Regions from separate parts of the Homo sapiens genome. Here region 2 is linked to region 1. A link means that fine-mapping ties the variant in region 1 to the expression of a gene that starts in the linked region. Tissue or cell type: tibial nerve. Region 1 holds a variant in brackets; the other region holds the start of a gene. All regions are shown on one strand. Distances are from middle to middle. Region 1 overlaps DAAM2 (dishevelled associated activator of morphogenesis 2). Region 2 holds the start of DAAM2-AS1 (DAAM2 antisense RNA 1).

Region 1 (5,372 bases):
CCAGCCCTGCCCCCTGTGCCAACAGTCCCCAGCCTTGCGCTGGGCTCTGCTCTGGCTAGAACCCAGCTAACCTCAGGGGCTGAGCCCAGCATGCTCCAGGGCACTCTCCACCAATCCTGTTCTGTCCCTTGACAGTTCGCCAAGGCCTTGATGCACTTCGGGGAGCATGACAGCAAGATGCAGCCAGACGAATTCTTTGGCATCTTTGATACCTTCTTGCAGGCCTTCTCAGAGGCCCGGCAGGATCTAGAGGCCATGAGGAGGAGGAAGGAGGAGGAGGAGCGGCGGGCGCGCATGGAAGCCATGGTGAGGGGCAGTGCCAGGCCTGGGACTGAGGGGAGACGGGTGCTACTTGGGGAGAACACCCCCAAACTGGGGTGTGTGGGAGGAGGGCAGAGACTGAGGAACTGAGGAACACCATAGGGGTTGGATGTCAGCCCCAGGAGAGAGAAACTTCTTCCCAGCCTGAGGGAAGAGAGTGGTGTGAAGCTGGGGGCCTGTATGTCCTAGGCAGGAAGAAAGTGGGGCCAACAGATACAGGCAGGCAGCATGACCATGGCCTAGGAGTTAGCCCAGGGTTGGGGGGCTGCCCTGGCCTCAGCGCCTCTCCCTGAGAGGGTTCCTATCTTTGGCCCCCCGCCCGCAGCTGAAGGAGCAGAGGGAACGTGAGCGGTGGCAGCGGCAGCGGAAGGTCCTGGCTGCAGGCAGCTCGCTGGAGGAGGGAGGAGAGTTCGATGACCTGGTGTCGGCCCTGCGCTCTGGGGAGGTCTTCGACAAGGACTTATGCAAGCTCAAGCGCAGCCGCAAGCGATCAGGGAGCCAGGCCCTGGAAGTTACCCGGGAGCGGGCAATAAACCGGCTAAATTATTGACCTGGGGAACTAGCCACACAGGAGGCCGGGAGACAGGGACTGGTGAGAATGGGGCTGAGTGGAGGAGGTGGTGATATTTAAACCATTTGGTGCTTGGTTTAGAGCCTTGGGCTGGGTCCTGGGATGGGGGGCTGTGTGTGGCTGGACCAGGTGTCTCCCCACGCTTACCTTAAGGGGCTCCTCTTATCTCCCCTTCACATGATTCCTTCTGTGCCCTGGCCCCAGGTATTATTCTGAGGCTGCCTTGGATGGCCTCAGGCCAGGTAACCCCAGGCTGAAGGGGCCCTGCTCCCCATCCCCTACCATGGGCACCCATGTGCTGGCACAGAACAGTTCCAGATCTAGACTGGAGAGGTCCACAGCCTTGTCCAGAGTTCCTGTGTAGCACGGGGAGCAATGATGGAGGGAGCCCCTGAGAGGGAATCTGGTGAGGGAATCCAGACTCCCTTCTCTCAAGGGGAGGCTCAACAGAACATTGACCTGGGGGCAAACTTTCCTCTTGAATGGGAACAGAGGAGGCATTATATATTCTAGTTAGATCAGCTCTGGTAGGTTCCAGAGAACAGTCAATGTTGGAAGGATGATGCAGGGACCAAAGCCATCAGGACAGAGTAGCAGTGTCTGTTTCCCATGTCACAAGTCCTCTGGCCTCTCCCTGCATGTCTTAAGTATCTTTCCCTTCCTTCTCTACCCTCACCTCCATCCTGTCTACTAATCCACAGTCCTAGAAGACTCACCTTGGGTTTCCACAGCTATGGCTCACTACCAGGTGCTTGATGAATCTGGCGAGGGGCTCAAGACAGACCTCATGCATCACCACACCTCATGCCTTTTGGGCATCTCCCATGTCCCCATCTCCTGGACACCTGGCCATTGTTGTGAAGCCAGACAGTGACCTCAAATGTTGCCTTGGAGTCCCCTACAGCCCCTCAGCAGAGGGCAGCACTTGAATGCTTAGCTCCATCCCATAGTTCTCTACTTCATATAAATTGCTCAGGCCCTCCCACCCCTTCTCTAACACTAGCTTCAAGGCAGAAGCCACAGCAGCCTCTGTCCAGCCTGCAGGTGGCCACTTGGAACCATGTGTCCACTGGCGTTGGGGAGTTGGTTCCTGAGAGGTCTGAGGGCCAGAGCTGCCCTCTACATTAACATGCTGTCTCTAAGGGTGGCCCCTCCTCTCAGGCGTTCAGATGGTGCGAACAGCAGAGCAGGCAAGGGAAACTGGGGAGATGGGGATGGAGGAGGAAGGCTGATATCCTCTGGGGAGCACATCACCTGAAGGTGCCAAGGAGGAAGGCTGAGAGGGGGGCCACCCCATTTCTGGTACCCAATTTGGTTCTTCAGCCCAACTTGCAAGGGGTTCCTTCTGGTCCTCCCATCCACTGCCACCTTCCATTTTGTCCATCTCATGCTGGCCTTGGTGGATGGGATGGCTGTATCTAGACAAAATTTTTCTAAAACTCCATCAAGGCTCTTATTCAATACCACGTTCCGAGTTGGCCTTTCATCTTCTTTGAGACTGGCCCTGCCTAACCTCTACCATCAATGAGCTCTTGGCCCTTCTGCCCTTCCCTGTGTTTCTCACTTTCCAACCTAATCCCTGGCTCAGGGTTATTGCCAGTGGAGACTGGTGAGCTGGGCCTACTCTCAGCTGCCTATCTTCTGCCTTTCACTTGCATCCAACTCCTGGGGCTGGGACCGTAGTAGCTGCGGGGGGGAAGAAACACAGGGTCGGTGAGCCCAGCATGTGCGTTGGTTTGAGGGGGCGGGCGGTGTGTGTGTGTTCTGGTGGGAGGGATCTGAGCAAGTGCAAGCCTGGCTGACACAGGTGTGAAGAGGCCATCCTGGAACCCAGGTGAGGGCAAGATGAAGGCTTCCAGGCAGAACAGCTGCAGAGAGTTTGGCTATATGCATCTGCAGCCCCAAGAGCTCCCACTGCAAGACAAGTGTTGGGGAAGATGGGAGGTTGTGGGTGAGGCCTCTAAAGGTCCTCTCCCAAACTGACCAGGCTGATGTCAACCTAACCCCCTCAGGGGCAGGGAACAGGGGAGGGCTCCACAAGCGTGTCTGGCATTCCCACCCACCATGGAAGACTGGATACGCACCTGGAAACAAAAGGACTATGGAAGCTGTTCAAGATACATTTGATCTTCAGAAAAGCAGAATTTGGTTCAACTGTTGACAGAGGACACAAATACGTTGTTCCAGAGCTCAGCCTTCTCACTCTAAAAGAAAGATATTTTTCTATTTATTTTCTACATCTGGCCAGTGGCTCTGGTGCTAGATGCCACTGTAGCCAGATCTCCAACAGTGCCTTGGACCATGGACTCATACTCAACTGAGTAAGAAGGGGCTGGTGCCCAGTCGGGGTGGCTGAGCTGGTCCTTAATAGGTTGTTTCTTGGTCTTGCTTTCTTCATGCCCTCC[C/G]CACTGCTCCTGCCACCTTTAGATAAGTTTCTCTAGCTAATTTTGTGGCCAATGTAAAATTCGTCATCAACCTAACAAACACAACCTTCTCAGCAGCATTTCTCCCCTGTGATGGAAATAAAGTGTTTAGGGCAGTGGGAGGAGAAAATTCTCCAGGTGAATGGGGAAGGGTCTGTTCCAGCCTCTCCCTACTCCCATCCCATTTCCACCAACTGGGGAACTGTGACTATCTATCTCCCCCGACTTCTACCAGGGATGCCTTCACGCCAAGGCTGTTCTCACCAGCTGCCTCAGATGACAAATGAGGCTAATGGACATAATCTACAGTGTCCTTTTTCACTTGCACCTTTTTTATAAGAATATATTGTAATACTAAAAAATATTAAATTCATACCATCCCTACCCAGTCTGCCTTTAAACTTGTGCCTTCTTCCTATGAGGGGATCTGGGGTGGGCTGAGAGTGTGCTGGAGCCAGCTTGTACCAGCTCTGTGAGAACCAATTGTTTACATTTTCAGAAATTTTGCAAGCCATTTGACATACTGGTAGCTTGAAATTATTCAACATGGGAGTATTTATATCACAAATTGTCTTTTCCAGAGAGCTGGTTGTTTAATATTTGCCAGCACACCTTGGCATAGGGCAGAGGGGAGGCAGGCAGGGGGCACCACTGAGGACTCAAAGACATCCAAGTTAGAGAGCCCAGCAGGCCAGAACTGTGTGTGTTTGGGATGTGAGAACCAGGAGCCTCTAATTAATTGCCCTCTCTGATCTCTCTAATAGCTGGTAATGCAAGCAATGAGCTTTGAACACCCCTGGCCACCACCTGACAAAAGATTTCCCTTAGATGGTGCATTTCTATGCCCCCTACTCCACTTTATTTTCCCATAGCGGGGCTATACAGAGAGTACACCCTTAGGCCTTTCCAGGTCCCTCCTCTTCTTCCCTCAGGGAACTGTGTCTTGGGATAGGATTGATTGATTGATTGATAGGTGCAGCCTTCCCTGTGAAACTGCAGCAGCTCAGTGCCCTACCCACACAGTGTCTTCATTCTTGCATCTGCAAAGTTGGCATCGTAGCTTTATTTGTGCGCTGTGAGGGTGAAGGCAATCTATCATCAACTTTTCTTTCCCTGATATGCTCCAGAATAAAGAGGGGTGGGTGGAACAGCCGTGAACAGGGCCAGGTGTGGGCTGTGTGGTCTGGCAGGAGTCCTTAGGGCTATGGCCCATGTGTGCACATCCTGTTTCAGAAGAGGGGGGCCAGAGGAAAAGGGGCCAGCAGGACCGGGCAACTGTTAAGCTGAAAGGCTGCAAGTCTGATGGGACACAGACTTGGGCAGAAGGAGAGATGAAGTCAGGACAGGACAGGACAGGGCAGGGCTGCGGCTTCACAGACTTAGGGAGGCAGAGCTGCCGGGGAGAAGTTGGGATCCATTCTTCAGGCAAGCTTGTGCTTTGCTCTCCTCAAAGTGGGCTCCTCTGCTTAATGAGCGCTTAATCTCTCCCCAGGAAAGCAGGAGAAGAGAAAACCCAAAATGAGAAGGAAAAGTTCTGGGCTGGACTGTCGGAACCTGGTTGTCTGAAATAGTCCACAAAGAACATGATTTCTCAGTTATCTGGCATTGCTTGTTGCAGTCCCGCTCCCACGACCTTAGTGTCCTGGAAGGCTTAAGGGCCTGCTGGTATCCTCCCTATAGAAAGGAAGCCCCATTGGTCATTAGAGATCATCTAGCAGCAGGCCTGTTTGTTAGTAGTAGAGCAGGCTGACTTCGGGTTTACTGCTCAAGGTAAACAAACAGTGACTGTGATTAAAGGAACCTGACGTCTTTCCCTCAGCCTACATTGCATCCCAGCTCCAGGCCTGGGTGGGCCATGGGTGAGAAGGGCAGGTGCTAAGCCCGATGGAAGTCCCCCCGCTGACCACCAGTCTTGCTAATGAGCTTGATCTCCTCCAACACGATGTCCCTGCTGACAGCCTTGCACATGTCATACAGGGTGAGGGCGGCCACTGCAGCAGAGGTCAGGGCCTCCATCTCCACCCCGGTGGGGCCCCGAGCCCGGCAAGATGCCTGGA
Region 2 (5,372 bases), 6.2 kb before region 1:
TTTTGCTCAACATTATGGTTGTGGGTTGTCCCTGCTGTTACATGTAGCAGTGGGGTATTCATTTTCAGTTCTGCATTTTATTCCATTATATGAATACACCATAATTTACCCATTCTATTTGGAATTTAAAAAACCTAGAAACAACCCAAATACCCACCAAGAATAATGTGGCTTTTAGGTTATAGAGTATGTACATGTTCAACTTAAAAGCTACTGACAAACCTTACTATTCATTTTTACAACTTTATTTACTTATTTATTTATTTATTTATTTATTTGAGACGGAGCCTCACTCTGTCGCCCAGGCTGGAGTGCAGTGGTGTGATCTCGGCTCACTGCAACCTCTGTCTCCTGGGTTCAAGCAATTCTCCTGTCTCAGCTTCCCAAGTAACTGGGATTACAGGTGTGCACCACCACGCCTGGCTAATTTTTGTATTTTTAGTAGAGATGGGGTTTCACCGTGTCACCCAGGTTGTTCTCGAATGCCTGACCTCAGGTGATCTGCCTGCCTCAGCCTCCCAAAGTGCTGGTATAGCTTCTTTTTAACAGTTACTTATTTCTAACTGTGTTCGAAGCTTTCTACAAACTTTTAGCAAAGTCGTTTTCATTTTATCTTCCTAGCAGCATCTTAAAGAATGTTCAGTTTGGCATAAGCCACAGATCACAGGATAATCTGGTCTTTTTGTTGCCACACTGAATATTCAAAAATCATATTCCGTAACTAGTAGACAAAATCTCAGTTTAGGATTTGTGTCCCCCTTCTGCACACCCACCATAAAGACATCATAGCTGAGGAAGGGCCAGAGCATACACAGCAGAATGAATTATTGAAGTTTTGGTTACTGTTAGCTTAGTTTGTATTTCTGGCAAAGATAACATTTAGAGCATTGGGGGAAAATGGTTAAGATGCCCAAAGGTTGGAAAAATCTTAAAAATGACATTCAACAGGATGTCAAGTAGCTTATTTCATCAAATCTTAGACACTATCAACTGAAAAGCATGCCATTATTTTATAGAACAAAAATAATAGAATATTATAATTTAGAATATGTTATTTAATTGATTTTTTTTCTTTCCAAAAAACCAATAGAATATAGCATTTCAAGACAGGCAGAAGCAATCCCATAATAGGTAAAATGCTGAAGTTAAGTGCTAGGTTTAGAAAAGTAAAAGTGTCATATTCATGAGTATATTCATGGAAAGAATATCTGAATAATCTTTTTTTCTTTTTTCTTTTTTCTTTTTGATACAGAGTCTCATGCTCTTGCCCAGGCTGGAGTGCAGTGAGGCAATCTTGGCTCACTGCAGCCTCAGCCTCCTGGGTTCAAGGGACTCTTTTGCTTTGGCTTCCCAAGCATCTGGGATTATAGGCATGCACCACCACACCTGACTAATTTTTTGTATTTTTAGTAGAGACAGGGTTTCACCACGTTGGCCAGGCTGGTCTCGAACTCCTGACTCAAGTGATCTCCCTGCCTCGGCCTCCCAAAGTGCTGGGATTACAGGTGTGAGCCACCGCAACCGGCCTTCTTAATAATCTTTAAATACATGTAAGAAAAGATCTTCTGAAATTGTCTTCTTGGGAAGAGCTGGCACGTCCTACAAATGGGGTATCTGGTGAATTGGCCTTGGTGAATGTGTCTGCTTCCCCTGGAGGTGGGTGAATGTGAAATCGATGGGTCTGCTGAGGAGTAGGTATAATCTCTGCCTCACTGAGAGTTGAAGGCATTTGACAGCCCCTTTTCTGAACTTTGCGGTGGCATCTTCCTGGGGTGCAATGAGAACTGCTGCCCTGCCTAGCCCATGCAGGCCTCTGACCTGTGCCTCCTCTCCCAGCCATCCTGTTGGCCTCCCGGGAGCTGGTCCGCAGCAAGCGTCTTAGACAGATGCTAGAGGTCATCCTAGCCATAGGCAACTTCATGAACAAAGGGCAGCGTGGGGGCGCCTACGGGTTCCGGGTGGCCAGCCTCAACAAGATCGCTGACACCAAGTCCAGCATCGACAGGTGAGGACCTCCCTTCCCGGCCACTTCCTTGGCCTCTATCTCACCCTACCCTGGCCTCTCACATCCTCCCTCTATTAGGACGGGAACATCCTAAGACTCATCACCCCTTTCTCTTAACACTCCATCCTCTGACCCTCTGACCCTCGTGCCCAGTTTCCTCTGTCACTTACCACTGACCTGACTTTCATCCACAGAAACATCTCTCTGCTCCATTACCTGATCATGATCCTGGAGAAGCATTTTCCTGATATTCTAAACATGCCTTCAGAGCTGCAACATCTTCCAGAAGCTGCCAAAGTCAAGTGAGGGTTCTCTCCAAGACTTCCTTCTCCCCATGATGACCCTCATTCTTGTCTTACTTTCCTCTTTTGGGGTCTACTCTGGGCTTGATGATGGCTGGTGTGAGACCTCGGTTCTTGTCTTCTGAGTTCAAAAGAATTTAAACAGACACACAGCAAAGGGGGTTTAGCATAGAACAATGTATTGCAAAAGAAGATATCTTGTGAGTTAGGTGCAGAATAGACAGTACACCCTGAGAGAGAGAGGATTCAGGGTGGGCTGCTTGTAAGGATGAGACAGCCAAGACTGGCACCAGGAAGACTCCCAGTATGGGAGACTTACACGATTATTCATAAAGAGGTGGGAAGAGGTATTGGGAAGCAGGCTCTGAGTGGTCCTCTGGGTGCACATGTGTAGTAGCTGTGTGTGCTTTTTCATACATCGCATGTCTCATTAGCACCTTAAATCTCCACCTAGGGGTGTGTTTTTTTACTATTATATGAGCAAAGGGCCAGTCTGAGGATAGGTAAAATCAAAATGCGCATGCTTTCCAGAGGGGAAAGTCCCTACTGCAGATAGCTTTGCTTGAATGAGCTCAATTACAATGCGAATGCTGAGGTTTATTGTGTTGACTGTATGGGCACCACCACAGCTGCTGTGTTCTGAGAAGTGCTCACTTCCTTGACTACCTATCCTGCCTCAGGCTGAGTAGGAATGGGCCATGTCTCAGGGTCTGCTTCTGGGAAAAACCAAACAAAGACAATTTGCTCTTAAATCCTTATTTCAGAGATGCTTCCAGAAAATACCAGTAGAAGAATGGGGAAGTGAGCCAGAGATAGAAAGAATGCCAGTAACAAACATTATTAAGCCAGTTACCAATCACAGGCAATTGGTGCTTAACCCCATGAGGAATTCTGGGAAACAGTGTGGAATAGTTACTTCAGTTTTCCCACCCAAAGGGCAAGGTTGCTGGGGCAATCAGAGAGCATCTCCTCTCAGTAATTGGCTGAGGGGCTCTGCAGGGGCAGGGAATAACTCTCTGGCCACAGGTACAGGTGGAAAGAGCTTGGCCTCAAAAAGAGTGTGCGTACAGTTGGAAGAGTTGGGGCCATGCCCTACAATGGATGGTCCAAGGAAATGTGGGTGGGGCACCAACAGCATCTGCTAGGCAAGATATCAGACACGAACATCTAGGCTGATAGATGTCATCTCCAGGAAAACTAGAAACATAGTGGTAAATGGCTCACTGGTATCGAATGCTATTGCTTGCAGGATCACATAAAGAGCTTATAAGCATTACCTGGTAGTAATAAAAATAAATAGGTCTAAGCCAGAGGCCACAGGTTGGAAATCTTCTGATATTGCAGCATGACATTTCTGACCTGGAAAGATCTATAGAATGCAGGCTTCACCTTGTTAATTTATTGATGCACAGACAGAGGCATGAAGGGGAGGTGCTTTGTCAGGGCCAACATCAATGGCCACACCAGGGCTGGAACCCAGGCTCACCGACTCCCAGGCCACTGTGCTTGGCTCTGCCCTCTCCCTGAACCAGCCTTAGCACCTCAAGGCGGGAGTTGATGGTCCTCATTCCCTTCCCTCTGTGTCTCCTTACAGCCTAGCAGAACTGGAGAAGGAGGTGGGCAACCTCAGGAGGGGCCTGAGAGCGGTGGAGGTGGTGAGTACCTTGTCAGTGCCTACCTGGGTGAGGGCTGCTGTCAGCAAACACTGTTCGTCACTGCACCCTAAGCTCCTACACAGGGGCAAAAAACAATGGGTACAGCCTCTAGCACAGGGTCAGCCCTCCCAAAGGATAACTGGATTACTGGGGCTTAAGTTTGAGCCTTTTAAAAGGGGTTACCTAAGACTATACCCATGTTACTGTCCAACTTGGTATCTATTTGGCAGTGGAGTGGAATGAACCATACATCTGACCCATGCCTACATTGGATTCAAGTGCATGGGAAAAAGAATCCTCATCCCTTGACTGCCAGCTAGGGGCAGGAAGCACGCAATGTGGCAGTGGGACCGATGTACCCAGAAGGTTCTTCCTTATGTCTCTCTGCCTGTTTCCTGGGCCAGTGGAGGACCCAGGTCTTTTGTTCCCACCATTCCCGTTCTGATGGCTTCTCGGCTGATACTATCTCTGGCCCTAGCCTTCCAGAAAACACCAGTAGAGGAGTGGGGAAGTGAGCCAGACTGGCCCAGTATGGGGATGTCTCTAAGTCTTGTCCCCCACACCTAGGAAGAAGGGACCCGTTCCGTCTTCACTGAGGAGAGAGGCAGTGGGTAAGGGAAGAATGGACTTTAGAGACAGATTAAGGATGACAAAGAACGTTTTGTTGCCACTACGGTGGGGGAAGATGATTTCCAAATTTACAATTTTATAGTCCTGTTAAGTGCTACTCAAAGTGCGGTACATGGACCAGCAGCTTCTGAATCAGCTGGGAGCTTTAGAAAAATGTCTCTTTAATTTGTGCATGAGTCACCTGGAGTCTTGTAAAGATGAGTCTTGTTAAAATGCAGCTTCTGATCCTGTGGGTCTGAGAGTCTGTATTTCTCATAATTTCCTAGGTGATGCTGCTGGCCCCAGGTCACATGTTGGGTCTCAGTGCTCTAGAGAAAGAAAGATGGCAGGGTGGGCTGGCTGCTAATGTTAGCTCATAGTCTTTGCCATCCTTAGAACTTTGAGATGCAGGGTGTTCCCTCTTCCAAAGGGCTCAATGTCCTGTGAGTGACGAGGGGAGATGTGGTGACCCCTGCACCCGACTCTCATCTTGGCACCAGTCTAAGCAGCACTTCACCCTCCCTCCTCAGGAGCTGGAGTATCAGAGGCGCCAGGTACGGGAGCCCAGTGACAAGTTTGTCCCTGTCATGAGCGACTTCATCACGGTGTCCAGCTTCAGCTTCTCCGAGCTGGAGGACCAGCTAAATGAGGCCAGGGACAAGGTAAGGGTGCCCCAACCCCCACTGCTTGCCAACCCAGCCTTATCTAAACAAGCTCCTTCACCCATTCCTACCACAGACAGCCCAGGAGGGACAAACCCAGAGTTACAGAGCTTTGAGAGAAAACCGTTTCTTCGCTCTT

Evidence for each region. PIP is the estimated chance that this variant, and not a neighbour inherited with it, causes the effect.
Region 2: DAAM2-AS1 starts here. The variant in region 1 is fine-mapped to the expression of DAAM2-AS1 in tibial nerve (GTEx, PIP above 0.99). The same link has a PIP of 0.9 or more in skeletal muscle, subcutaneous fat and sun-exposed skin.

The regions. Positions count from the first base shown.
Region 1 is chr6:39,901,167-39,906,538 of GRCh38, forward strand. DAAM2 (dishevelled associated activator of morphogenesis 2) reads left to right here. Exons shown (of 25, transcript NM_001201427.2): 24 at 136-306; 25 at 647-3,703. The coding sequence ends at 871. It overlaps MOCS1 (molybdenum cofactor synthesis 1), which reads right to left. Exons shown (of 11, transcript NM_001358530.2): 11 at 3,004-5,372. The coding sequence ends at 5,191. Among named protein-coding and RNA genes, the nearest start is that of DAAM2-AS1, 6.5 kb to the left of the region's middle. The variant C/G (reference allele first, on the strand shown) is at 3,298.
Region 2 is chr6:39,894,976-39,900,347 of GRCh38, forward strand. DAAM2-AS1 (DAAM2 antisense RNA 1) reads right to left here and starts at 2,405. Exons shown (of 4, transcript NR_125831.1): 1 at 2,222-2,405. It overlaps DAAM2 (dishevelled associated activator of morphogenesis 2), which reads left to right. Exons shown (of 25, transcript NM_001201427.2): 20 at 1,837-2,005; 21 at 2,200-2,307; 22 at 3,902-3,962; 23 at 5,102-5,233. RefSeq lists enhancers at 1,824-2,323, 2,624-3,140.